Homo sapiens: one gene and its partners. The protein of the gene in region 4 interacts with the protein of the main gene of each other region in a biochemical or structural test. Each region holds a gene or a part of one and is shown on either strand. Other genes may lie near its edges.

Region 1 (3,500 bases), on a different chromosome or scaffold from region 4:
TGTGCGTGTATGTGTGTGTGTGCATGTGTGTGCACATTTCCAGGATCTGTAGGTGGCTCAGGGCAGGGCACACAGGTACCCCAGAGTAGGGGGATAAAGGGAAAGGTAAACTCCAGTCACCACTCACTCCAGCCCCGAGAAAGGTCTCCCAAATAATCACGGGGCTCGCCCAAGTCAAGGACAGGAGGTCTGGGGGCCGTACGTGAGCCCAGGGATCTTGCCTAGCCCTGGGAGGGCAGGGCCCCCTCGGGTGGAAGGAACCCAACTGCCGAGGACAGGGCCGGGCGGTGCGGGTTACTCACGGCGCTGTCGATACCCAGGGTGAGCAGCATGATGAAGAAGACCACGGCCCAGGCTGAGGACAGAGGGAGCGTGGCGATGGCTTCCGGGTAGATGATGAAGATCAGCCCTGGCCCTGAAACAGAACCCGCCCTGCTTGCCACAGAGCCCACGCTGTGCTCTCCCGCCCATCCTGCCCCACCCCGCCCCGAGAAGCATGGCCTGCCACAGGCCTGTAGAGACTAGGGCTGGTGCGGCTCTGCTGAAAAGCCCCCTTCTATATGTCCAGCAGACCAGGCCTGGGACTCAGGAAAGCGGAAACCCAGAACTGATCAGAGGGCTTTGGTTCATGCCCACCACCCAGCAATGGGGCTCCTCCAAATTACCTGGGTCCTTTTGGGCTATGGGGGTGCTTGGGGAAGGAAGGGGCAGAAACAAGGAGGAGCAGGAGGGGCTTCCAGGCTGGTCCTGCCCTTCATCCCAGGGACATCTGCTAATGTCCTTCGAGTTAGTTTTTCCTGCACATACCATGCAACATACACACTCAGACACACATACCATGCAACATACACACTCAGACACACATACCATGCAACATACACACTCAGACACACATACCATGCAACATACACACTCAGACACACATACCATGCAACATACACACTCAGACACACATACCATGCAATATACACACACAGACACATGCGCGCACATGCACGAACACTCATTTGTGCATTCAAACTCATACATGCAAGAACACATCCACATGCACGCACACAAACAGAAACATGCACGTGCATGCACAAACATACACAAACACACACAAATCACACACGTCCACACTATTTAGTAGCCTAATTTCTAAAATTAGCAAAACATTTAGGGATACATTCCTGACCTCCGCCTTCCAGGCACATGAGGAAGCTGAGGTCCTCCCACCCTCCCGTGAGGTTAGACGTGGCTGCACTTGGCCAATGTGCTGTGAACCCACAGTGAGCGGGTCCCTGCGAGTGAAGCTTGGTAGAGGAGTGTGTGGCTCCTTCACCACCTCCCCTGCCACGGGGTCCCGCAGGCCATATTGAGACAGGCTCCTGTCAGCTGGGGCCCTGAGGGCTCAGAGGAGCAGCACATCCTGATGGATACAGGGGCCCAGATGGTGGCTTCGGAGATAAGAGACAAACCTGCTACCTTGCTATCCCTGCAAGCGAGGGGCACGCCAGGCTGAGGGCGGCATGGCAAAGGCGGAGGAGGTGTTCCCCCACAGCTCTCTCGGGAAACGACACGTGCTTCCTGCTACCAGCAGGCAGACTCGGATGGAGGTGGAGGGGACGAGAGTGTGGCAGGCAGGCGACCAAAAGTCAACGCAGTTTGGTCTCTGATGACCCCAAAGTAAAAACCAGTCCCATAGGCAATTGACCTTTGACCAGTTCAGAAGCCTTGCATCCTCCACTGGCTGGCACCATCTCCCAAGCCCAATCTGCCTGCAACAGAGTCCCCTGTCCTCAGCAGGCACGTGTCTGGCCCTAGCCTGCAGGAATAGGCCTGCGCCTGGCCTTTTAAATAATCAAAGGCCAGAGCCAGGGGCCGTTCCTAAAGGTCTTTCAGGGGCCTCACTATCAGCCAAGCAGCGGGGTCAGACCTGGGCTCTCGCAGCTCCCAGATACCCTGGTGGATGGGGACAGCCTCCGCGTGGGGTGGGGGAGGCAGGCTCGCCTGAGATGTTCCGGGGCTTAGATGGTACCAGCCAGGAGCCTGGGAAGATATTCATCAGCTCAGGGAATGTAATGTCAACACCCGTGCCTTCGTTTCTGTACCTAAGTTAACATTTCACCCTATTTTCTTGAGAATTAAGGCTGTAAATGACATTTACTTTGCTTGTCATGAAATGCACAGAAGAACATTCAACTTTATTTTCAGGGGTTAATAGAGGTTTTTGCAAACTATGCTCGTTATCATAATAAAGGGCAAAAAGAATGAAGAAAAGGCATAAATGCGGCACCGAGTAAATTTCACTGCTCTGCATTTATTTGCAGATGTTCCCTTTCTCCCGCTTTGACTGAATTTTTTTTCCTAGTGGAAAGAACATGGGCTTAGGAGGCCCACCTCTGAGCTGTGGCTCCAGCCCCGACCCTGGCTTTCTGTTGCAAGCATGGAGTGGGCCCTTTCAGGTCTCTGAGCGTGTTCCTACCTGCGGTGCGAGGGTCCTAGTGCCCCACTCTGTGAGACTCAGGTGCGGTCAAGGCTGCCCCCGCTTGGTGCTTGTCGCTCCCCGCCTTCACTGAGCCTCAACACCCAGGCAGAGATCAGTCAGCAACAACACCCACACGGGACAGGGGCTTTTCTGAGCACAATCATTCCTCACAAATGTAGTGCCCCCACCCCACCCCCGGAGAAGACAGTCCAGAGGAAGCAAGGATGGGGACGCAGCATGGGAGCCCACCCAACCCAGGCCCGTGTCTGGAGCGAAAGGGCCTCCTCCACATCCATGTGGCAGAGCAGGCCGGGAGGCAGGCGGGGGCTCTGCTGGCTGACAGAGACCGAGAAGCCTTGGGACTCCCTGGAGCTCTCGGTTGGCCCAAGTTAGGGCTGCCAACGCCACAGCTTTCCACTGCAAGCACCGGAGCCAGGCACGTGGCCCCAAGTGCCTGGGCCCACTCTCAGCCCCTGCATCTGTGCCCGTCCTGCCGGCTCCATCCTGCCTGGCACACTTCTTGCTGTGGCCAAGGCCTCCCCCCACCACTCACCTGTGCCTGCCCGAGACCTGGACCCCTCCCCACCCTCTCGGAGACAACTCCAGGCGTGCAGGGACACTCAGCGTCATGCGTCGGCCTGGGGAGCGGGCAGGGACACCCTGTGCTGGAGGCCCCAGGGATCTCCCGGCTGCTCTGTGGCCAAGCTGATGTTTGCGGCATCCCAGCCTGCCTCCAGGTGTTGCTGGAACAGCTCATTCCTCCCCTTCCCTGAGCTGCATGTTCCCACACCGCGTGGCAAGCAAACATCTAGAGGGCCCTCAGTGACAGCATCTACGCCAGACCCTGGTGGGGCAGCCTCATGTGGCATCTGCAGGGAGCAGTCGAGGGACTGAGGCACCAACTATGCTGCTCAGCTGCATTTGGGCTTGAGGTTCCCCAGCCCAGGGTGGAGGCCCCGAGAGGCACAAGGCAGGAAAGGCACTGGGTGGGGGGGCCTGGAGGGGCAGGGCGGAGAAGGCACTGGGTGGG
Region 2 (4,294 bases), on a different chromosome or scaffold from region 4:
TGCAATACTCCGAAAAGGGCAAGAAGGAAAAGCCTCAAATGGTTAAACCGCCCTAAATAATTAAAAACTTTTGAAAAAGAAAAACGCGTGATCGGTCGTCATTTAAATACAAATATACTTACAAAAATCTTACACAGGCTATTTACAATCATAAAAGCGAACAGTCCTGGTACCAGAGTGTGAGGGCAAGAGGTCTGTCCATCCTCCCTCTGGCAGTCGGGCCCTCGTGTCCTTTTGCCTCAGGGACGGAAGCTTTTGCAGGAGCTGAGTTGTTCAAAGGAGCCTGCGAAAGAGAGTTGTCTAGTGAGGAAACCTCGAGATGTCAGGATTGGCACGAACTCCACGGCGCTGGCTTTGGGGGATCGCTGCGCCCCGGCCGAGGCCTGGGCATGGGCTGAGCCCCGGGTCTCAGACTGTAGTCTCCCCTTGTTTGCTGTTGGTGAGCCTCGTGTAGAACTTCCTCCAGGAGTTGAGGGTCTTGCCGGACCAGATCCAGAAGCCCGACGTGATGCCCACGATCAGCGTCATAAGGTACTTAATCATGAAGACCGTGAAGTCCGGGCTCATGGGCGGGTGCGGCGGGGCGCCTCCGCCCGCCTGGAGGTGAGGGCAGGGGATAGCGTAGCTCTTGCAGCTCTGGGCCACCCAGCTGCGTTCCCACTGGTCCCGGAAGGCCTGCTCGTAGAAGTAGCAGGCGATGACGATGGTGGCTGGCACAGTGTACAGCACGCTGAAGACGCCAATGCGCACCATGAGCTTCTCCAGCTTCTCGGTCTTGGTGCCATCGTGCTTCATGATGGTGCGGATGCGGAAGAGCGACACAAAGCCGGCCAGCAGAAAGGACGTGCCGATAAACAGGTACACGAAGAGGGGCGCCAGCACGAAGCCACGCAGCGCGTCCACGTTGTTAAGCCCCACGAAGCACACTCCGCTCAGCACATCGCCGTCCACCTGGCCCAGCGCCAGGATGGTGATGGTCTTGATGGCCGGCACAGCCCAGGCGGCCAGGTGAAAATACTGTGAGTTGGCTTCGATGGCCTCGTGGCCCCACTTCATGCCAGCCGCCAGGAACCAGGTGAGCGACAGGATCACCCACCAGATGGAGCTGGCCATGCTGAAGAAGTAGAGCATCATGAAGAGGATGGTGCAGCCCTCCTTCTTGGTGCCCTGCGCCACAGTGCGTGCCCCGTCCTCGGCGAACTTGTCATTACACACCACTCGGTCTTCCAGGAGGAAGCCGGCGATGTAGGCCACGGCCACGGCCGTGTAACAGCCGGACAAGAAGATGATGGGCCGCTCCGGGTAGCTGAAGCGCCGCATGTCCACCAGGTACGTAAGCACCGTGAAGAGCGTGGAGGCGCAGCACAGCACTGACCAAATGCCAATCCAGGTGCGCGAGAAGCGCAGCTCCTCGGGCCCGAAGTACATGAGCCCATACACCTTGGTCGGCTCACAAGGTGCGCCGCAGTCCTTCTCCCCCAGGAAGTGGTAGTTGAGGTAGGAGGGCACCTTGAGGGCGCGCGGGCAGGAGAACTTGCCTCGCTCCGACGCGCCGGCGCCCCCCGGGAAGCCGCCACGGTGCCCTCCGCCGCCGTGCTGAGGGTTGCTGGTCCAGAACTCTGGAAGCAGCGAGGGCGTCGGGGTGCCCTTGTCGGACGTGTTCTGGCCCACGCACAGCTCGCCGGCGCCGTGCACCGGGAACTTCTCACACTTGAGCGTGTCTGGCCACTGGAAGCCGAACTTGTTCATGAGCGCCTCGCAGCCCTGGCGCGCGCGCTCGCACAGGGAGCGGCAGGGCGGCAGCGCCTGCTCTAGCACGGTGCACACGGGCGCGTACATGGAGCACAGGAAGAACTTGAGCTCAGCGGAACACTGCACTTTCACTAGAGGGTAGAACTGGTGCACCTCCAGGCCCGCGTCCTCCTGGTTCGTGTGGCCCAGCAGGTTGGGCATGATGGTCTGGTTGTACGCGATGTCCGTGCACAGCGGGATGGAGATGGGCTGGCAATAGCCGTGGTCCGGGACGGAGATGCCCCGCTCGCCGTTGTACTGCTGCCCGCTCTGTTGCTGCTGAGGCGGCGGCGGCGGTTGCTGCCCCGGCCCGGGCCCCTGGCCTGGCCCCTGGCCCGCCGCCTGGGCCCGGACCCCCAGCAGCAGCGGAGCCTCCAGCAGCCAAAGCAGCAGCAGCAGCTGGCGCGCCAATCGCCGGGGGTCAACTGGCGGGCGGCGGCGGCCACCGGCGTCCCCGCTGCCCTCCTCCGCCAGCCGGGCCGAGAGCGCCCCGGCACAAAGTTCCCAGCTCGCGCCACCGCCGGCGGCCCGGGACTTCTTAGGCGCCTCCTCCTCAGCCATACTTTCTCGGCTCCTCTCTTGGCGCCGCTCCGCTGGGGCTGCCAGGGGCACGGCCGGCGGCGGCTCCCCCTGCGGCCAGGGAGACCTCTGCGCGGGTGCCCTCCGTCGAGCCCAAGCCGCTTTCGGCCCGCTCCCCCGGCTCCTGTTCTGCGTACCGCAGCCGCCGCCGCCGCGGAAACTTGCGATTCATGAAGCGCGGGCGGCGGGGAGAACCCGGGTGGCTAGGGCGCGCCGGGGTCGTGTCCCGCCTTCCTGGCCCTCGGCTCGCTGGCTCCCGGCTGGCGGCGCCGCGCTAGTGGCCGCGGCCCCGTAGAGAGCGCAACTCTCCGCAGCCCAGCGGGCTCGGCTCCCCCCTGCGCCTCCGCCTCCTTCTCCGCCGCCGCCGCCTGACCATTTGTGTCAATCCCTCAACTCGCTCCCTCTCCTCTGCCTCGCGCGCCCTCGGACCGGTTTCCAGGCGCCCCGTAGTCTGTCTTTCACCAGGAGGGAGGAGCCTTGAAACCGACGCAGAACTGGAGGCTCAGGGACCGTCGCCCAATCGCGGCTCCGGCTTCCCGGCGCAAAGGGAGCCGGCCGCCTCCTCGCCAGAGCGAAAGCCAGCGGCAGGAGGGCGGGGTAGGAGGAGGCGGGAGGAGGAGGAAGTAGTGGTGGTGGCACTACTCAGGCACAAAGAGTAGGATTGCTCTGAAGCGGGACAGGCTTGGTTGCTTTTGCTTTTTCAGAAGAAAAAGGCGAGGATACGTAGGAGAATGGTCCCATATGCTGCTGGAGATAATGAATAGGAGTCAGAGGACCGCGGGACTTCGCTTTTCTTTTATTTTATCCATTATCATGTTTAAAAATCCTGCTCTTAACGCTGGTTACCAACAGCAAACCGGGTTCTGCTTCCAGAACAGATGCCTTTGACTTAAGGAGCGCACGGTTTCCTTTGAGTTTGTGTCTGTCGAGGTTTTGTTTAACATATTACATTAATAAATCCTCCAGTTCGCAGGCTGGGCTTGGCGGGCTTTGGTCGCGCCATTTCCCCAGAGGAGACGTTCACGGGATCGCTGTCAAATGAAACAAAACACAAACTTTGATGGAATTTGGAAAGTAAAGCCAGATGCGCCTTCTGCTACTATCATTCTTCTTGGAGTCAAACTCCTTTTTTTCCGCCTCTTTAATCAAGTCAGAAACAGAAGCAAAAGAAAACTATCCATTAAATTTTTGGAGAGAAAAACTTAAGAACCCGACGACCGAGGCAGTGGGGGCGCCTCTCTGGGATCGTCCTCGCCGCTCCAGACCGCAGAGGTGGCGCCGGCGGGAGCTGCACTCGCCGGCAGCTTGGGCCCCTGGGGAGCCTTTCTAAACCCTGGGGACGCCCACGGCTCCGATGGGAACTCCTGGGACCTGGGCCATTTAGGTTCCACAGGCTGGGCTGCAGAGCTGGAGACGCCAGTTTAATAAACAAAACAAACAAACAGTCTGAAAGCAAACAGCGAACTGCACATTCTCTTCCTAATTCCAAAACAGCATAATCCGTCTCAACAGACGCACATTAATGTTGTTTTCCTTGTAAGATTATTTTAAATGATGGTTTGACTATGTAATTCAGTTTTATAAGAAAAGTGCCATTGGACTATTAATTCTTCCATTTTTTTTTTTTTTTTGCCTGTGATCAGACTCTATCTCAGCGTACTTTTCACCAATTACTTTCTATCATTCATTTACACATTCATTTGTTTAATAGATACCAACCACCCATTGTGCTATAAGCACTCTTAGGTCGTAGAGTATAAAATGAAGGAGACCTGTGCCAGCCTTAGAGAGGGGCATAGTACAGTGAGGCACAGAAATGCAAATCACTTGTTACAGTGTCCATCCCAAAGCCAAAAAGGCACATAGAAAGCAACCAGCTCAGATGAAATGGGGTTCTGACGGAGAGGTAGGTGCAAGGTGCAAA
Region 3 (4,092 bases), on a different chromosome or scaffold from region 4:
AACCACACAACCCAAGACCCAACAAGACTCAGTGTTTCCCCACTCGTTACGACTTAACCTAGCTCTTCCTAAACCCAATCCCCTCCCCCCAGCCTTGCCCTCCACCCTGCCCTCCCTCCCTCCCTCTAGGGAGGTGTGAGGTCCTGCAGACCTCAACTGTTCCTCACACTTCGGTGACCAGGTGTTTCCCTGGGGGTGCCCAGAGTGGAGGTGGTAGCTCAGGTACCTCCCCGTCCACCAGCCCCCCATTGGCCTTGCCCTCCAGTGGGCCACAAGGCTGCATGTCCACATGGCTGAACATCCCAGCCTCTTCGCCCTCTGTCTCCCGGTGATAAAAGTAGCTGAAATTGGAGACAATGACGGGCACTGGCAGGGAAATAGTCAGCACGCCCGCAATGGCACACAGAGAGCCCACTATCTTGCCACCCACAGTGACGGGTGCCATGTCTCCATAGCCAACTGTAGTCATGGTGACTACCGCCCACCAGAAGGACTCAGGGATGCTAGTGAAATGGGAGTCCACCCGGTCAACTTCGGCAAAGTAGACGGCGCTGGAAAAGAGGACCACACCGATGAAGAGGAAAAAGATGAGGAGGCCCAGCTCACGCATGGAGGCCCGAAGCGTCTGGCCCAAGATTTGCAGGCCCTTTGAGTGCCGGGACAGCTTGAAGATGCGGAAGACACGCACCAATCGGATGACTCTCAGGATGGCCAGTGACATGGCCTGCTGGCCCACCCCTCGCTGCCGGGCCAGCTCGGTGCCCAGTGCCACAAAGTAGGGAAGGATAGCCACAAAATCGATGAGGTTCATCACGTTCTTGAAGAAGATAGCCTTGCTTGGACAGACCAGGAGGCGTACCAGCAGCTCAAAGGAGAACCAACAAATACACAGCGTCTCCACCACGAAGAACGGGTCATTGAAGGGCAGGCGGGGTGGATTTCCAGGCATTTGGCTGGAGCCATTCAGCGGAGCGGGGAACTGCAGGGAGGAAAGTGTTCAGGGAGGGTCAGGCTGGGGCTAGGACACGGGGACAGCCTTAATCATCATTTAAATACCCAGCTCCTCTTTACACATTGGTCAGTAGCCGCTGCGCCAAGGCCCTCCGTGACCTGGTTATCCCAGACTTCCTCCCAGGATCCCAGGGATCATCCCTGGGCCGCTGACTTTCTGGTTGCCTGACCTGGTGGGTGGCTGGAGACGTGGTCCCTGCCCCTTCATGCGTGGGAACTCATGTTTGAGTAGGGTGCAACCTCTTCTCTCTCAAAGTCCCGCCTCCAGTGTTGATTTTCTAGATGGGGAGCATCCCTGCCCTGGCCCCACCACCTTGTGCCTAGCTTTTCCTTGCCCTCCACAGTCCCAGCCCAGAGTATAATGCGGCTGGGCGCGGTGGCTCACGTCTGTAATCCCAGCACTTTGGGAAGCCGAGGCGGGCGGATCACGAGGTCAGGAAATAGAGACCATCCTGGCCAACACGGTGAAACCCCATCTCTACTAAAAATACAAAAATTAGCCGGGCGTGGTGGCCTGCACCTGTAATCCCAGCTACTTGGGAGGCTAAGGCAGGAGAATCGCTTGAACCCGGGAGGCAGACCTTGCAGTGAGCCGAGATAGCGCCATTGCACTCCAGCCTGGGCGACAGAGCAAGACTCTGTCTCACAGGAAATAAAAAAAAAAAGACCTTCTCTGCAAGCCGAGCCCTAGGCCCCCTCCTCTGGCCCCTCAACCTGGCTTTCTTTCCATAGATTCCTCCTACTGTCGCCCCTCGGGCTCCAGCACCCTCAGCTGGAGTTATTCAGGGCCTGGCTTTCACCACCCAGCCGCACAGACTCCGGAGTTTTCAGGCTCTCCTTGGCCCCCCTCAGCTGTGATTTTTAAGGTTCCTGTCCTCCTACCCCTTGCATCAAGGGCCCTGCCCTCTTCACGCCGGGTTTCTCACTGACCTCAACCCCACCTTCTGATGGGGCAGGTCCTCCGACCCGGATCCTCAGGCCCCGCCTCCCGCCCACCCTGTCTTCGGCTGGCCCACCCCTCGCAGCCCCTGGCCCCGCCTTATGATTGGCCAGGTCCCCTCTGGACCCCGCCCATCTCCTCCCAAACCCCGCCCGTCTCCACCCACGCCCCGCCTCTCACCGGGCCGGCTGCGGCTGCAGCAGCAAGCCCCGTGCCGTCGCGGTCGTCGCGGAAGTCAGGCAGCGTCTCGAGGCAGAAGACGACGATGGAGACGAGGATGACCAGCACGGAGACTACGGCGAGCACGCGCGCGGCCTGAGAGCTCTCGGGAAACTCGAAAAGCAGCCACAGCTGGCGGGCGAAGGCGCGGCGGGGCAGGGGGCGCTCGGGCGGCACCGGGCAGCCCTCGTCCTCGCGCAGGCGTGCCAGGGCCGCCGCGCCCAGCCCGTAGAAGGCCACCTCTTCCAGGAAGACGTCGAGCGGCACGTGCGCCGGCCGCCGCAGCCGCCCACCGGACTGGTAGTAGTAGAGCACGGCGTCGAAGCTGGGCCGGTGCCGGTCGAAGAAATACTCGCGGCGCGCGTCGTCGTAGAAGCGGCCGCGGCGCGCTGGGTCCCCTAGCAGAGTGTCCGGGAAGCGGCCCAGCGTGCGCGCCCGCGTCTCGAAGCGCAGCCCGGCCACGTTGAGCACCAGCCGCTCGCAGCAGCCGCACGGCGGCGGGCACCGCGGCTCCATGGCGCGCGCAGCCCCGGCGACCCGCGAACCGACGTGTGGCCCCGACGCCCGGCCCCGGTGCGGCCCCGCCTCGGCCGCCTCGGCCGCCGCCGCCGCCGCCCCAGCCCGGTGTCCGGTGTCCGGTGTCCGCGCGTAAAAATAGCCCGGCAGGGCGGCTAGGGCGCGAGGGAGGGGGCACTGTGACCCCGGCGGGGCGGAGGGCGACAGGGCGACCGCGCGCCCTCTGCCGGGACGCCCGCCCTGCCCTGCCCCGCCGCCGCCGCCGCCCGCGCCTGCTCTGCGCCTTTCCCGTCCCGGGGTCCCCTTTCTCTCCGTCCTTCTGCCGCCGGGATCCTGTCCTGCGTCTCTCCAAGTTTCCGTGTGCGTGTGTTTCGTCAGAATCAGGCTTCAGTTGCAGTCGCCTCTTTTCTTTTCTCTTTCTTCTTTCTTTCTGTCTTTTTTTTTTTTTTTTTTTTTGAGACACAGTTTCCCTCTGTCGCCCGGGCTGGAGTGCAGTGGCGCGATCTCGGCTCACTGCAACAACCTCCACCTCCCGGGATCAAGCGATTCTCGTGCCTCAGCCTCCCTAGTAGCTGGAATTACAGGCGCCACCAAGCCCAGCTAATTTTTTTTCTTTTTTCTTTTTTAGTTGAGAAGGGGTTTCACCATGTTGGCCAGGCAGGTCTGGTACTCCCGACCTCAAGTGATCTGCCCTCCTTGGCCTCCCGAATTGCTGGGGTTACAAGCGTGAGCCACGGCGCCCGGCCTGGAGTCGCCCTGTTTGCACCTTTGTCTCTCACTCTCTTGTGTGTCTGTGTCCGGCTGTCCCCTCTGGGTCTCTGTCTCTTTTGGGATGTATCTCTGAGTATCTCTATGGGTCATTTATTTCTGAGATTCGTCGTTCTGGGGGCCTCTGTATGGGTCCCTCTGCCAGCCTCTACGTCTCGGTCTCCGCCTTTATTTTGACTCTTGGTCTGTCTCCGTTTATCTCTTGTCTCTCTTGGTCTCTTTGTCTCTCCTCTCTAGGTCTCTTTTTGCTCATTATCTCTTAGCCCTCCATGTCTCTGTCTCAGGGTTCCTCGGCCGCTCCCCTTTGGGTCTCCCCTTGGGGTCTCTAGAGGACTTAGGGTCTCCGGAGTCATATCTCTTGATCTCTCCCTGACCATCACTCCATGTGGGTGCTGCCACAGTCCCGGTGGCTGTCCCATCCTAGGGTCACTCTGGCAGCTGCAAACCACTGAGCATGTGCACACACGCCCCATTCTCTCCCCAGAGTTCGCTCCAGAGTCTCCACCTGGATTCTTCGCAAGACTTTCTGAGACCTAGCAGGACCTGAGCTGCGGCTATGACTCTGGCAAAAGGAGTCTGGTCTTGCCGGAACGGGCGGGGGTTGGGGGTGTGGGCCGGGGAGATGCCACAGGGTCATT
Region 4 (3,500 bases):
GAGCTGGGAAGGGCATTCACTAGTACAAGAACCCAAGACGTTTCTTTTCTTTCTTTCTTTTTTTTTTCAGATGGAGTCTTACTGTGTTGCCCAGGCTGGAGTGCAACGGCAGTATCTCAGCTCACTGCAACCTCTGCCTCCCGGGTTCAAGCGATTCTTCAACCTCAGCCTCCCGAGTAGCTGGGATTACAGACGCCCGCCATCATGCTCGGCTAATTTTCGTATTTTTGTAGAGATGGGGTTTCACCATTTTGGCCAGGCTGGTCTTGAACTCCTGACCTCAGGTGATTCGCCTGCCTTGGCCTCTCAAAGTGCTGGGATTACAGGCGTGAGCCACCGCGCCCAGCCAAAACGTTTATTTTCTAATTTACAGTCAGGGGAAAGAAGTTTTATTTTGTTTTGCTTTTTCCCTTGAGGAACTGAATGTTTTCTCCTTTCTGATTTTAAAGTAAACTAACTTACTGTGTTTCTCTTTTTGCCCTCAAATTTGCTACCCAGTTAGTCCCTGCAGCTCTGTTATTCTTCATAATCAGCATGCCTGCTTTTCCCGCCTCTGATTTTCTGGTTCTACTGTCTTAGCCTTCATGTCTGTGTTACCTTTTCTGGAACCTGCTTCAAATCCTTTCTGAAGGGGGAAGCCTCTGAATAAATGAGTGACTGACTTCCACCTATCTAATGAAGTGCTTTGTCTCTTGAATTTACAATAATTTACTTAGCATTTTAAGATAACATATAGCATTTTGGGGGTACAGAGAAACTCTGAATTCACTCCGTGAGATTACAGGAATCTGCAGGAACATCAAAGTCTGATAAATATCACAGGGGCAGAGGAAGGGGTCTCGCATATTTGATGCTCTACACGCCTTCTCTGGTTTAATCCTCACCACAGCTCTGTAAGGCAGGTGTTTACAGACGAGGAAAGTAAGGCTCAGAGAAGGTTAGTAACTTGCTCAGGTTTACAAAGCAGCCCAAAGTGGAACCAGGAATAGAATGAAGGACAAAGTCCACAGCCAAGGCCTTTTCAGACTAGACCTTGTGGTCTCCAAATCAAAATAACCTGAAAGGTTTCCCAGTGGTCATAAGATGCCAACTTGTGATCTACATTTTTTTTTTTTTTTGAGATACAGGATCTTACTCTGTTGCCTAGGCTGAATACAGTGGTGCTATCACAGGTTACTGCAGCCTCGAACTCCTGGACTCAAGCGACCCTCCCACTTCAGCCTCCTGCGTAGCTGAGACTACAGGCACGCGCCACCACACCTGGCTAATGTTTATATTTTTTGTAGAGACTGGGTCTTGCTATGTTGCTGGTGTCAAACTCCTGGGCTCAAGCAATTCTTCTGTCTCGGCCTCCCAAAGTGCTGGGATTAAGGTGTGAGCCACCTCACCTAACCAGATCCACATATTTGATGCATAAAATAAGCTATAGACTCTGCACCTCACTCTCCCCAAAGCTGCAACCATATGGGCAGGGGAGATAGTTAACTTCCTTTGTGTGATATTAGCATGATTCTGCCATTAAAAGCAAAAACAAAGGTTTCTTCCAGAAATAAAGGCCTCTGGGTGGTCGGATGTGAATGGATTAGGCAGGAGTTAGTTCCCTGTGCCTGCCCCTTTCTCCCAGGCTGTGGGGCCTCCCCACATGCCATCGAAGTGTTCCTACCTTTCTCGCAGTAGGGCTCCCCGTCTTCCATGTGGAAGAGGCTGTTCCCAAAAGGCTTCTTGCAGGCCGCACAGACGAAGCAGGTGGTGTGCCATGTCTGTCTCAAGGCATGCATTACTTCCTGGGGGAAAGAGCCTAAGCTCAGGACAGAAAGGAGAGAGGGAGCGGGCTTGACTACCCCACCAGGCTCCAGCCACTGCCCGAGCATCCTACCAGGGAACAGGGCAGGAGATCTCAGGATGCAGGCCTTGGTCACTCTGAAGAAAGACCCAGGGGTGTCAGAGAAGGGGTTGTCACTCTCCAGCTGGGTGCCAGGTTCTGTGCTTTCTTACATAAACTGTGAGGCTTAATCCTCCCATTAAACCTGGGAGGAGGTACTGCTTATTACTGTCATTTACCAAAGGGGCATTGAGGGTTAAGGCCACATTCTGGTGAGTGGTAAGGTCAGGCTGTGAAGCAACCACTTGCTTTGCAGAAGTTCCACCACCACTTCAAGCTGTGTGGAACAGGCACACAATCATCTCTTGCATCAAGTTCATTTATCCCCAAGTTTATTGGTGGCAAACCAATTCCCTTTTAGGATAAAAATGGAGTTGCTTTCTCTGTTACCAGCAACTTCTTGGCTTCCTAATGGGATCCCACGATCTTGGGGAAGGGCTGGGGAAGAGACATGGGTCAGAGGAAATGGAGGCCTCCCACTTACCCCCATAATTTTGGTGTTGCACTTGGCACACAGCGGGGCAAAGAATTGCTCATAACATCGCTCACAGTAAACGTTGTTCTGCTCTTCCACAAAGCACACATCTGCCAGGGAAGTCTTGCAGTAGGCACAGGTGAACTCTTCAGGGTGCCAAGAACGGCCCATGGCTACCAGAAATGGGCCCCTGGGGAAGCACAGAATGGCACCCAGTAAGGCAGCTCCCAGAACTTGGAATTAGATATTTGAAGAACCCCAACACTGTTTATACTTTTACCCAATAACTCTGACTTTTGTGACTGTTCTGATGAAGTAATGTGAAATTCAGAGAAAGCTCCATGCAGAAAGGTGTTCATTGTTGCATCACTTACAATAAAGAAAATCAGGAAGCAACTCAAACATCTACCAATAGGGGACTGGGTAAACATATTATAGAATTCAGTTGACCACTGATAATGATAGTAAGAAATGCAATAATGATGATGCTGATGGCTAACATTTATTAAGTGATTACTCTGTGTCAGGCTCTATTCAAGAAGACTTTTGCATTTATTAACTTGCTTAATTCTCACAACAATCCTACGCACTAGGTACTATTATAATACCCATTTTTAGATAGGGGAATTGAGGCACACAGAGTTTGAACAACTTGTTTAAGGCCATAGGGCTAGTAAGTGGTAGACCAGGATACAAACTTGTATTGTCTAGTTCCAGGTTAGCAGTCAGAACAGTGGGACTATGAAGACATTTTTTTATATTCTAATTTTTACTTTTCTGTGTTTTCCAATTCTTCACTAATGAGTATGTATTACTTTAGTTTTAAATAAAAGTGTATTTTTCACGTATATAAGCTCACACCACACATGCACACAAACATACTGTATTCAAACAACAGCACCCATGGTCCATGGCTTCTAAGTATGAAATCACTTGTTTTCATTTTAGTCTGGCAGATGCCCACCAACCCCCTGAGCAGCCCAGGCCTGTCTGTGGAAAGACCCAGAAACAACCCTAAAGGAAAACTGGGTCAAAACCAACACTGTCTAACAAAATGCCCTGTAAACCTACTGACAAGCCTGGTGATTCCCAGACCTCAACCTTAGCCCAAGGGGGAGTTCCTGGCACCAGGCATCCTGCTGG
Region 5 (3,500 bases), on a different chromosome or scaffold from region 4:
TGGTAAAGTAGGAACAAGCAGTGCCGCTTTGTTTCTAGATGTGGGAACAACAAGGAGCCTGACCAAAGATGTCCACTCCCTCTTCCTCCACACCACTTCTGATGACCTCCAAACAGGTCAGGCAGTGTACATGGAGAGCTGGGGACAGCAAGTGGATAGATAGGAGAACACAGAGCCTGAGTGTCTCAGAAGCCAAGCTGCCTAACTACTGCTGTTTGTTTCCAAAACCTCTTCATCCTTTTAACCAGTCATTTAAGTTTACTTTAAATGCTGTAGCCCTTTGCTACATGTGTGGTGGGAGGCATCTTGCAGGTAATATCAGTTGAGTATCACGTAGCAGGAATGGAATTTGTGAGTCCTCTGGCTGATGCTGGCAAAGCTAGTTCTTCAAAAGAACTGTTTTACAGTCTAAGTGACATCTTTTTGTATATAACTTCGTACTAGTAAAGTTGGGGGTAGGGGGTAAAAAGGCCTTCCTTAACAGTGCATTTCTTCCATTCAAAATCAAGGGCAAAACTAAAAAGCTGGCAGATGGCGACCATCCTGACCCTTTGCGGCACAACATGTTATTAGCAATTAAATGCTTTTATCTGATCTCTGGTCCACACAACTGTCAAGGTCTCAAGATTTTATGATGTTTCCATTGTGATGGTAATTTGTTGAGATGGCTTTCTGGGTAATTTCGTATTGCTCTTGTTATTCAGTTTCAAGGATTATAAAATAATAATAGCAGCCCTGTGTGCTGACGAATGCATTCTCCATAACTATGGCTGCTCCTTGATGAGAAGCTTTACAGTACTATATATAAATGCCAGCTGAGTATTTGTTATTATTGTTGGACATCTTTTTTCAAAGAAGCCCAGAGCCTGGTGCTGATATCATCCCATTAATCTCCATAGCCCTGGGCAAGGTAAGACCATGACAGCAATTTTTTAAATCCCATCTCGGTCTTCTCTAGGTTGCTCTGTAAGAATTGTTTAGATGTAAGCTGGTGAGTGCTCAGGAAGCCAAAGTTTAAAGCAAAAGTTTTAAGCAAAAGAGTAACATGAGCTGATACTAAAAGCCATCTCTTGGCCCGGTGCAATGGCTCATGCTTGTAATCCCAGCACTTTGGGAGGCTGAGGCAGGCGGATCACCTGAGGTCAGGAGTTCAAGACCAGCCCGGCCAACATAGTGAAACCCTATCTCTACTGAAAATACTAAAAATTAGGCTGGCATAGTGGCAGGCATCTGTAATCCCAGCTACTCAGGAGGCTGAGACAGGAGAATCGCTTGAACCCGGGAGGCAGAGGTTGCAGTGAGCTGAGATTGTGCCACTGCACTCCAGCCTGGGCAATAAGAGTGAAACTCTGTCCAAAAAAAAAAAAAAAAAAAAGCCACCTCTTGTACTACTGAAGGAGGAATTTATGCAGACTTCTTAGCTACCAGTGATTTCACTCTGTTTTAATACAAAAATTTACATGTATTTCTTTTATGATTTAGGTCAGTGGGTTACCAACCCCAGATCTAAGCTGGCAACTAGATGGAAAGCCCGTACGCCCTGACAGTGCTCACAAGATGCTGGTGCGTGAGAACGGGGTGCACTCTCTGATCATAGAGCCAGTCACGTCACGTGATGCCGGCATCTACACATGTATAGCTACCAACCGAGCAGGACAGAACTCATTCAGCCTGGAGCTTGTGGTTGCTGGTAGGCTCATCTGTGAATCCTTGCTCTCTGACAGAATGAACATCAGACTTACAAATGTAAACTAATTCTACATTACTAACCAATACGGAAAATAAAGTATTGAAAAAATAGATTGTATCATCAAAATAGCCAATGAGGACATGGTTATAAGGCCTAGCAAAACAGAAACAGAAATCTTTCATTTCTCCCACTAACCTGGCAAAGAGAGAAAAAGATTTTATTAGCTCTTTTGGGTCATTCGACCTCCTGTGTGTATAGTGGCCCCTAGTGTTACATAGAGAAATAGTAACAGCAGCATGGACTCCAAGAACCAAAGAATTTGCTTATATATAAAGTTTTATATTTATATATATATATATATACACACACACACACACACACACACACACACACACACACACACCTGGTTTTTAAAACAACACTGTCATCTACCCTCATAGTCATTGTCAAACTACACTCAGATTTGCTTTTTCACTGATTATTGTGTAGGTAAATTCTGTAAAAGTGCTGTTACATGAAGTCTTATGCTTTGAGAAGCCTAAAAGGAAAACACATTTATGGAAAGGTTTTTATACCATCCTTAAGAGTTAGGTGTTGAGTACCTGATCTCTTTTAAGAAAGAACATAACAAAACATTTATTTCTTCTACCTCTTTATGCAAAGTGCTTCATGTACATTATGTATCAGTTGGCCCTCACATGAGCCTTATGAGATAATCAGAGCAAATCTTCTCTGAATTTTCCAGGGTCCCACTTAGTAAGCTGATGATTAGATTTAACACAAGACTCCTAGTGCTCTTCTAAACACACTACGTCACTGAGCTCTTTCAAGAAATAGAGTAGCAATGAGAATAAAACCCAAGAAGTCTTGACAAAACTCTTGGATTATGATTCTGATAATGGTACCAAGATGTTTTCACATAAAAATGTGGTAAATATGTGGACTGTGGTGCTACAGGTTAGCCATGCTTTCAAGTTTTGTACAAAGTACTCTATATTCTTACATGCTACAATTGATTTCATTCCTCTAACCTCAAACTAAAACTTCACTTTTCTGCTGTTAAATATGCCTTTTGATCACATAGATACCTCAGTGCGCATCAGCTGGCACTCCTGTCAGAAGACGGTGATGCACAGTAATTGGAAGCAAAGTCTTTGGGGTCAGATCTGCTCCAGTCCCGGCTCTTGTCGATTTTACTAGTGTGACATTTGGCAAATAGCTATCTCTGCGACTTAGTTTCTCCATATATAAAATGGGAATATAATGCCTCACAGTGCTTTCCTAAGGATTAAATCATAAAAATGTGTATGAAGCTCTGCATAACTAGTACCCTGCACAGCAATGCTGCAAAGTGGTAGATGTTATTCTTACTGATGAGTTGCTATGACATTAAGACTTGTTTTATACATTTTATGTTCTTTGCAAAACTGGAGCCCCAGAAAGAATACAAAGTGAGCTTCTGTTCCCACTTCTCCCAGAATAGCCTAGGATGGGCAACCATGTAAAATTCAATAAAAATCCAACCTTCTAACTAACTCGTGGTGTTGGAGAGTATTAAGCATTTGAAAAGTTCAGGTAGAATTTTCATCCTTTTTGAGCTCTTTCCTAGCTGCTTTGCTGTGATATATCTGTCACTCCAGATGAGGGAGTAGTGGTGGAAAAGGAATGCATTCTCAGATTCATTGTTGGTAGTTCAAAAGAAAATAAGTAAACCTTATTCATTCTCTGAAGTACTTTCCACCACTACTACAACTGATCCAAGAAAACAATTTCCCATTGGATGGTATTATTCAGAGTGTTATTAACAATC
Region 6 (3,500 bases), on a different chromosome or scaffold from region 4:
TGTGAAACTAAGCAAGCAATGGACTAGAAGGCAAGAGATTCTAATCCCAGAATATAATCCATGCACTTCAGGAATAAGTTCTTTCCATATCCTAATTTCTGAAATAAATGAAGAATATCAAGTTAGATGATTTCTAAAATCTCTTCCATTTAACATTTGATGAAAACTATCTCAGAGTAAAATTCACCAAACTGACAAATTATGTGGAACTCAAAAGTCTAGGGATAGGAGAAAAGTAAAGTAATAGCAGTAAAATTAAACAATATAACAAGATGTCAAAATTTTAAAAAGGCACTTCCCAAACGATCATTTCAGAAAATTTGCGGTTGGACTAAATTTAAAAATTTCAATATTGACTCACTGTAATTCCAAAGTAGGTATTAACAATCTAGGCATCCCAGCTCATGAGCTGAGCAATCCACTAAGAATCGTGCTAGTGACTCATACCCCTGAACGCGACTGCTTTATGTGCAGAGACCAGGAATCAATTAAAGGGTTTACAATGAAGTGTTGTTTAACTGGAACGTTTTAAGTGGAAGTTAATTCCACATGAGTGATAATAGATGTTTAATAACTAGCTCGTGACAATTTCTAAGCAAAAGCATTACAGCAGCTAAGTAGCACATAGTAATCTATGTGCTACAAACATGAAAACAACTTGTTTTCAAAAGAGCTCTTGGCTATGAATATTTGAAAAACCTAAAATATAATTTGTGGCGAATCAAATTATAAAATCTCATGGAGAGTGAGTAGTTTGAGATCTTGGCTGTATCAACCAATGAGGAAACAAAAAGCACCATTGTGGGTTGAAGTGCCAATTTTCGCTGGCAAAAAGCCATTCTATTTGAATGTAAGAACCTTCAGGAACCAGCTGGAGAAGTATGAGGAACCTGGGATAGGGATAATATATTCATTCACAACATATCCTAAGTGGAACTGTCTTCATGCAAACAGGACAATATTGGAACATTTGTCCAAAACAGCCTAAGATTAGGTCAAACCAACTGTTCTGAACAATGCTCAGTCTAGAAAAACGAACATGTCTAAGACAAAAATAAATGTATGATTTTCCAATATGACTACGTTTATGATACAAAATTTCTTTAAAAAAACCCAACCCATACCATCGGCTGGGTGCGGTGGCTCATGCCTGTAATCCCAGCACTTTGGGAGGCTGAGGCAGGCGGATCACCTGAGGTCAGGAGTTCGAGACCAGCCTGACCAATATTGGCGAAATCCTGTCTCTACTAAAAATACAAAATTAGCGGGCGTGGTGGCACACGCCTGTAATCTCAGCTACTTGGGAGGCTGATGCAGGAGAATCACTTGAACTTGGGAGGTGGAGGCTGCAGTGAGCCAAGATCGCGCCATTGCACTCCAGCCTGGGCAACAAGAGGGAAACTCCGTCTCAAAAAAAAAAAAAAAAAAAAAAAAAAAACAACAAAAAAACACCAACACCCATACCATCATACACCAATGGTGTCATCTGGTACAACTTTTCTGGAAGGCATCTTGGCAACAGTTATCAAGAACTTTAAAGTGCTTATATCCTTTGATCAATAATTCCACATTTAGTAATTTACCCTAAACAAATACAGGGCATTTATTATAAGAAACACATATAATTAGGTTGGGTGCGGTGGCTAACACCTGTAATCCTAGCACTTTGGGAGGCCGAGGCAGGTGGATCACAAGGTCAGGAGATCAAGACCATCCTGGCTAACACTGTGAAATCCTGTCTCTGCTAAAAATACAAAAAATTAGCCGGGCATGGTGGCGGGCGCCTGTAGTCCCAGCTACTTGGGAGGCTGAGGCAGGAGAATGGTGTGAACCTGGGAGGCGGAGCTTGCAGTGAGCCAAGATCGTGCCACTGCACTCCAGCCTGGGAGACAGATCGAGACTCCGTCTCAAAAAAAAAAAAAAAAAAAAAAAAAAGAAACATATATAATTTATGGTATAACCTCCATAATGGAATATTGTACAACCATTATGGGGGGAATAAGGAGGGAGTAACTGCTAACGGGTATCAGGTTTCTTTTTGACGGAATAAAAACAATCTAAAATATTCTAAAATTAGGGTGTGTTGGCTCATGCCTATAATCCCAGCACTTTGGGAGGCCGAGGCGGGTGGATCACCTGAGGTCAGGAGTTCGAGACCAACCTGGCCAACATGGTGAAACCCTATCTCTACTAAAAATATAAAAAATTAGCTGGGCGTGGTGGCAGGCGCCTGTAATCTCAGCTACTCGGGAGGCTGAGGCAGGAGAATCGCCTGAAACCGGGAGGCAGAGGTTGCAGTGAACCAAGATCATGCCATTGCACTCCCGCCTGAGCAACAAGAGCGAAACTCCATCTCAAAAAAAAAAAAAAAAAAAAAGAGTCCAGCCTCAGTAAATTGTGTGATAGAGCCACTTAATAAAATAGAGTACACTGAAGAAAGTCTAGGTGTGGGGCCAAGATGAAGAGCTCACTTTGGACAACACAATTCAAATTACCTCCTCTGAGTATCTCTGTGGAGATGTTGAACAGGCAGCCAGGATAAAAAAAGAGGTCTGGCTACAGATAAAAATGTGGCAGTATTCAAAATATATATGGTAACCGAAGCCACAGAATGGATAATTTCAGGAAGGAAAATTTTGAATCCAAATAAACATCTACTCTGGATGGGCAATTAGGAATTCCAAGTCCAAGAATGACTCAAGGGGAATTCCTAAAATAGAGTCCAGCTCTAATTTGAACGTTCCCAAAAGGAATGTTATAACTCATTAGTTAAGTAATAATAAATTAAGCCAAAACTGATAAATACTACAAACATGTGAATGAAAATAATCTCTATAACTATTGGGAGTTGAATATAGTTTAGAGATTAGAGGATAAGAATAGGGGTGTGTGAAGTTTATCCGATTTATATAGAGGAAAAACATCAAAACTTACTCTGAAACCCTATGCATTTCTTTCCTGTTTTTTTTTTTTTTTTTTTTTTAAGACGGAGTGTTGCTCTGTCACCAGGCTTCAGTGCAGTGGTGTGATCTCAGCTCACTGCAAACTCCGCCTCCCGGGTTCAAGTGATTCTCCTGTCTCAGTCTCGCAAGTAGCTGGGACTACAGGTGTGTGCCACCAGGCCCAGCTAATTTTTGTATTTTTAGTAGAGACGGGGTTTCACCATGTTGGCCAGGATGGTCTTGATCTCTTGACCTCATGATCCCCCCGCCTCGGCCTCCCAAAGTGCTGAGATTACAGGCGTGAGCCACCGTACCTAGCCTCTTTCCTCCTTTTTTTTAAAATTTCTTATTTTTGTAGAGACAGGGTCTCATCATATTGCCCAGGTTGGTCTTGAACTCCTGGACTCAAGCAATCCTCCTGCCATGACCTCCAGAAGAGCTGTGATTACTGGTGTGAGGCACCATGCCTGGCCTTTCTTTCCTTTCCTTTTTTTTTTTTTGAGATGGAGTCTTGTTCTGTCGCCTAGCCTGGAGTGCAGTGGCACAATCTTAGCTCAC
Region 7 (3,500 bases), on a different chromosome or scaffold from region 4:
GAGCTGAGTGAAACTTTAGACTTCAAGAAGGACACAGAAGACCAGGAAAGTCAACATGAGAGTGAACAGGACTTCTCCCAAGGACCTTGTCCCACTGTTCGCCAGAAGCTCTGGAATATCCTGGAGAAACCTGGATCTTCCACAGCTGCCCGTATCTTTGGCGTCATCTCCATTATCTTCGTGGTGGTGTCCATCATTAACATGGCCCTGATGTCAGCTGAGTTAAGCTGGCTGGACCTGCAGCTGCTGGAAATCCTGGAGTATGTGTGCATTAGCTGGTTCACCGGGGAGTTTGTCCTCCGCTTCCTGTGTGTGCGGGACAGGTGTCGCTTCCTAAGAAAGGTGCCAAACATCATAGACCTCCTTGCCATCTTGCCCTTCTACATCACTCTTCTGGTAGAGAGCCTAAGTGGGAGCCAGACCACGCAGGAGCTGGAGAACGTGGGGCGCATTGTCCAGGTGTTGAGGCTGCTCAGGGCTCTGCGCATGCTAAAGCTGGGCAGACATTCCACAGGTATTCACATTTCACTGATGCCTTTTAATTTGCCATTGCATGTAAGCATTCGTTTTTTGACCACAGTACAAGGAAAGTAACGCTGAACTGATATTCAAAATTACCAACTCCCATACTTTACCTGATCATGACCTCTAAGGAGATATTGGGAGGCAAAACATTGAAGTTGCTATCACAGGTATAGAGAAATGAGCTCTCACATACCTCCTCTCCATAAGAGAAATGTTGAGAGACAATTTGACCATTTGCTAACCTCAGTTTATTTGAAACCATTACCCAGAAGATATACAAAAATTAAACGCACTCTGCCTATTCAAGGTTCTGGACAAAACAGGCATAAATGACACATAAAAAGATACACATAAATTATATATGATATATAGGGACATAAGCCAATTTCTCTTCAGTATCCGAGAAGTGCTTGCCACATATGCTCCTTGGCAGAAGAGAAAGTCAGCCCTTCAGAGCCTTCTCTGGCCATGCAGAAAGAGAAATGACTAGGTGCAGGTGGCCTTTCCAAAATTTTCAAAGAAGCAATGAAAATATTTTGCTTTGGGAGAAAGCAAAATAAACTAATTAAATGCTTTATCTAGTATCTGAAGGTTTTCTTGTCCCTAACCTGGGATGTATGAGAGAGGGGAATACAGAAATCCCTTAGTTTTTTGTGTATCACAGAGCCTTTGAAAATCTAATTAATATTTTCCTAGAAAAGTCTCCATATAACACACACACAAACACATAAGATACGTGAAAATTATAATCAATATCAGTGAAAATCACAGGAACTGATTAAAAATGATTCTTGCATCCCCAACAGTAGTAGTTATCAGTGGCTGGCCTTGCAGCTGTCAGATATTGTGGAGTATATGAGTTTCCTTATGACATACCTTAATGAAAATAAGGATCCCCAGGCAAGCTTGTTGAAATACAGCTTCTGGCTCCAACCCCCAGAAAGCTTGAGATCGGGTCTAGGAGCACACATTTTATAAATAATAAGTTCACCAATGACTTTGATGTAGGTGGTTCTTGGACCAAACCTAGAGAAACACTGGAGTATGATGCCATATTAATTTTATATATGTTGATACAAATACATATTAGCACAAACAAATTGGCTAGATATCACTATCCTTATTTTATTTCCCTAGATATGTGCCCTGACTGACCACCTAAAAAAGGTTGATGGTAGTTGTCCTTCCTATAAATGTCAGGTGAAATTACTTCTGATATGTTTTTCTTCAACATTTCTCTGACAATTAGAACTTATTATAATATAATTTTGGTAGTGTATTTTCCTAGCTAGTCTCACATACCAGGAATTTGATAATGGGGTTTCCAATAACTTTTACAAGTACCACTCTTTGTTTTCTGACACAGATAATGGGATGCTTTCTTCAAGTATTTATAAACTCTTCACAAGACTCAATTTAAAAACACCCAGTAAAAACTACATTTTTTTCCAAAAGAAAGGAAAAGGAAAATAACAGTGATTTCCACAATGTCTCCTCTTCAAAGATTTTCACCATTCTAAAACAAGTATAAAGTTTTAGTAAACCCTTAATTATTAAAAAATATGTGACTTGCATATTTGACAATTTTGCCTCAACACTACATTTATTAAAATGTACACATAGATGACCTATTTCCCCATGTATTAATTATAAATTCAAATTGAGAGATGTTATAGGATAATGGGTTTTTGGCCAGAAACTAGGTTTAAATCCTGGCTCTGTAGCTTTCTACTAGATAAGCTATCTCTTTATGCCTCAGCCTCCTCGTCTGTATAATGGCATAACAATTACCATGTCCCTCTTATATCCTTTCTTTTGAAGATTCTCTGAGTTAATAGAGATAACATGCTAGAAATTCCACCCACTTTGTTTTCCTTTACAAAATTGTTTTGAACATTTTGCCTTTAAACTAAAACAGTGTTCCCAGACAAATGCTATGCATCTCCTCATATGCTGTGAATTTATTTAAGGAACATAATTCCATGTAGACACATCAAGGCCAGTTTTTTATAAAAGTAAAGGTATTATAAAGGTATTCTGAAAGATACTCTTTTGAAGTTAAACTTCAAAATACTCAATGATCTTTAAAAATAGCTGGTTAATAATTCAAGAATATCTCAAAATTTGAAGAGCAAAATTCAAAATCCTAAGAGTATGATTAGTATGCTAATGCCTTTGAAATAGTCTCTAGTGAGTGAATAAAAACAAAAAATGATTCTAAGAGGTATTGTTTTGGACTTCTGGGGCAATATCATTTTGACATCATGTTGATATAATTTCAAAATGTGGACAAACTTTAATAACCACCTCTCTAGTATTAGGGAATAAATCTTATGGTTCATTCAAAGCCTGGTTCCATAATGGGCTTTTCTTTCTTTCTTTTTTTTTTTTTTTCTTTTTTTGAGAGGGAGTCTCATTCTATTGCCCAGGCTGGATTGCAATGGCGTGATCTTGGCTCACTGCAACCTTCGCCTCCCAGGTTCAAGTTATTCTCCTGCCTCAGCCTCCCGAGTAACTAGGATTACAGGCACGCACCACCACGCTGGGCTGATTTTGCTATTTTTAGTAGGGATAGGGTTTCACCATGTTGGCCAGGTTGGTCTCAAACTTCTGACCTCATGATCTGCCTGCCTCAGCCTCCCAAAGTGCTGAGATTATAGGCGTGAGCCACCGTGCCCGGCCCATAATGGGCTCTTACTCCCCTTAGGCCTAGTGTCTTCAGAGACGGAATTGGACTATCGTGGTTCTGTCTCCCTGGGGTTTAATAAATCCTCAGATCTAGGAATGGAAAAGCAGCCAATGCTTCATAAAGAGTAAATTCTCTAGTGGTTCCATTTCCCATACCTTTTTGCAATGGAGGAATATTCTGTATTCAGGTCTATGTTATTATAGGAAAGCAGAAATTTTATGTACTCAAGGGAGATAATTTCTTACAGCTTTGGTATTAAGGAGTAGGGTTTCAGTGGGTGTCTTGG

Evidence for each region.
Region 1: the proteins of LDB3 (region 4) and SLC6A3 interact in a test that uses a peptide from one of them, tested with the Homo sapiens proteins (one large-scale study listed by IntAct).
Region 2: the proteins of LDB3 (region 4) and FZD1 interact in a test that uses a peptide from one of them, tested with the Homo sapiens proteins (one large-scale study listed by IntAct).
Region 3: the proteins of LDB3 (region 4) and KCNA7 interact in a test that uses a peptide from one of them, tested with the Homo sapiens proteins (one large-scale study listed by IntAct).
Region 5: the proteins of LDB3 (region 4) and PALLD interact in a test that uses a peptide from one of them, tested with the Homo sapiens proteins (one large-scale study listed by IntAct).
Region 6: the proteins of LDB3 (region 4) and GJC1 interact in a test that uses a peptide from one of them, tested with the Homo sapiens proteins (one large-scale study listed by IntAct).
Region 7: the proteins of LDB3 (region 4) and KCNV1 interact in a test that uses a peptide from one of them, tested with the Homo sapiens proteins (one large-scale study listed by IntAct).

What each region holds. Positions count from the first base shown.
Region 1 is NC_000005.10:1,410,941-1,414,440, forward strand, and holds part of SLC6A3 (sodium-dependent dopamine transporter), read right to left. Parts: intron 416-3,500; coding exon 303-415; intron 1-302. UniProt on the Homo sapiens protein: Mediates sodium- and chloride-dependent transport of dopamine. Also mediates sodium- and chloride-dependent transport of norepinephrine (also known as noradrenaline). Regulator of light-dependent retinal hyaloid vessel regression, downstream of OPN5 signaling.
Region 2 is NC_000007.14:91,262,939-91,267,232, reverse strand, and holds the start of FZD1 (frizzled-1), read right to left. Parts: upstream 2,801-4,294; 5' UTR 2,353-2,800; coding exon 409-2,352; 3' UTR 1-408. UniProt on the Homo sapiens protein: Receptor for Wnt proteins. Activated by WNT3A, WNT3, WNT1 and to a lesser extent WNT2, but apparently not by WNT4, WNT5A, WNT5B, WNT6, WNT7A or WNT7B. Contradictory results showing activation by WNT7B have been described for mouse.
Region 3 is NC_000019.10:49,069,900-49,073,991, forward strand, and holds the start of KCNA7 (potassium voltage-gated channel subfamily A member 7), read right to left. Parts: upstream 2,801-4,092; 5' UTR 2,687-2,800; coding exon 2,132-2,686; intron 980-2,131; coding exon 164-979; 3' UTR 1-163. UniProt on the Homo sapiens protein: Mediates the voltage-dependent potassium ion permeability of excitable membranes.
Region 4 is NC_000010.11:86,717,011-86,720,510, reverse strand, and holds part of LDB3 (LIM domain-binding protein 3), read right to left. Parts: intron 2,548-3,500; coding exon 2,367-2,547; intron 1,785-2,366; coding exon 1,664-1,784; intron 1-1,663. UniProt on the Homo sapiens protein: May function as an adapter in striated muscle to couple protein kinase C-mediated signaling via its LIM domains to the cytoskeleton.
Region 5 is NC_000004.12:168,920,052-168,923,551, forward strand, and holds part of PALLD (palladin), read left to right. Parts: intron 1-1,482; coding exon 1,483-1,690; intron 1,691-3,500. UniProt on the Homo sapiens protein: Cytoskeletal protein required for organization of normal actin cytoskeleton. Roles in establishing cell morphology, motility, cell adhesion and cell-extracellular matrix interactions in a variety of cell types.
Region 6 is NC_000017.11:44,820,288-44,823,787, forward strand, and holds part of GJC1 (gap junction gamma-1 protein), read right to left. Parts: intron 1-3,500. UniProt on the Homo sapiens protein: One gap junction consists of a cluster of closely packed pairs of transmembrane channels, the connexons, through which materials of low MW diffuse from one cell to a neighboring cell.
Region 7 is NC_000008.11:109,969,272-109,972,771, reverse strand, and holds part of KCNV1 (potassium voltage-gated channel subfamily V member 1), read left to right. Parts: coding exon 1-514; intron 515-3,500. UniProt on the Homo sapiens protein: Potassium channel subunit that does not form functional channels by itself. Modulates KCNB1 and KCNB2 channel activity by shifting the threshold for inactivation to more negative values and by slowing the rate of inactivation.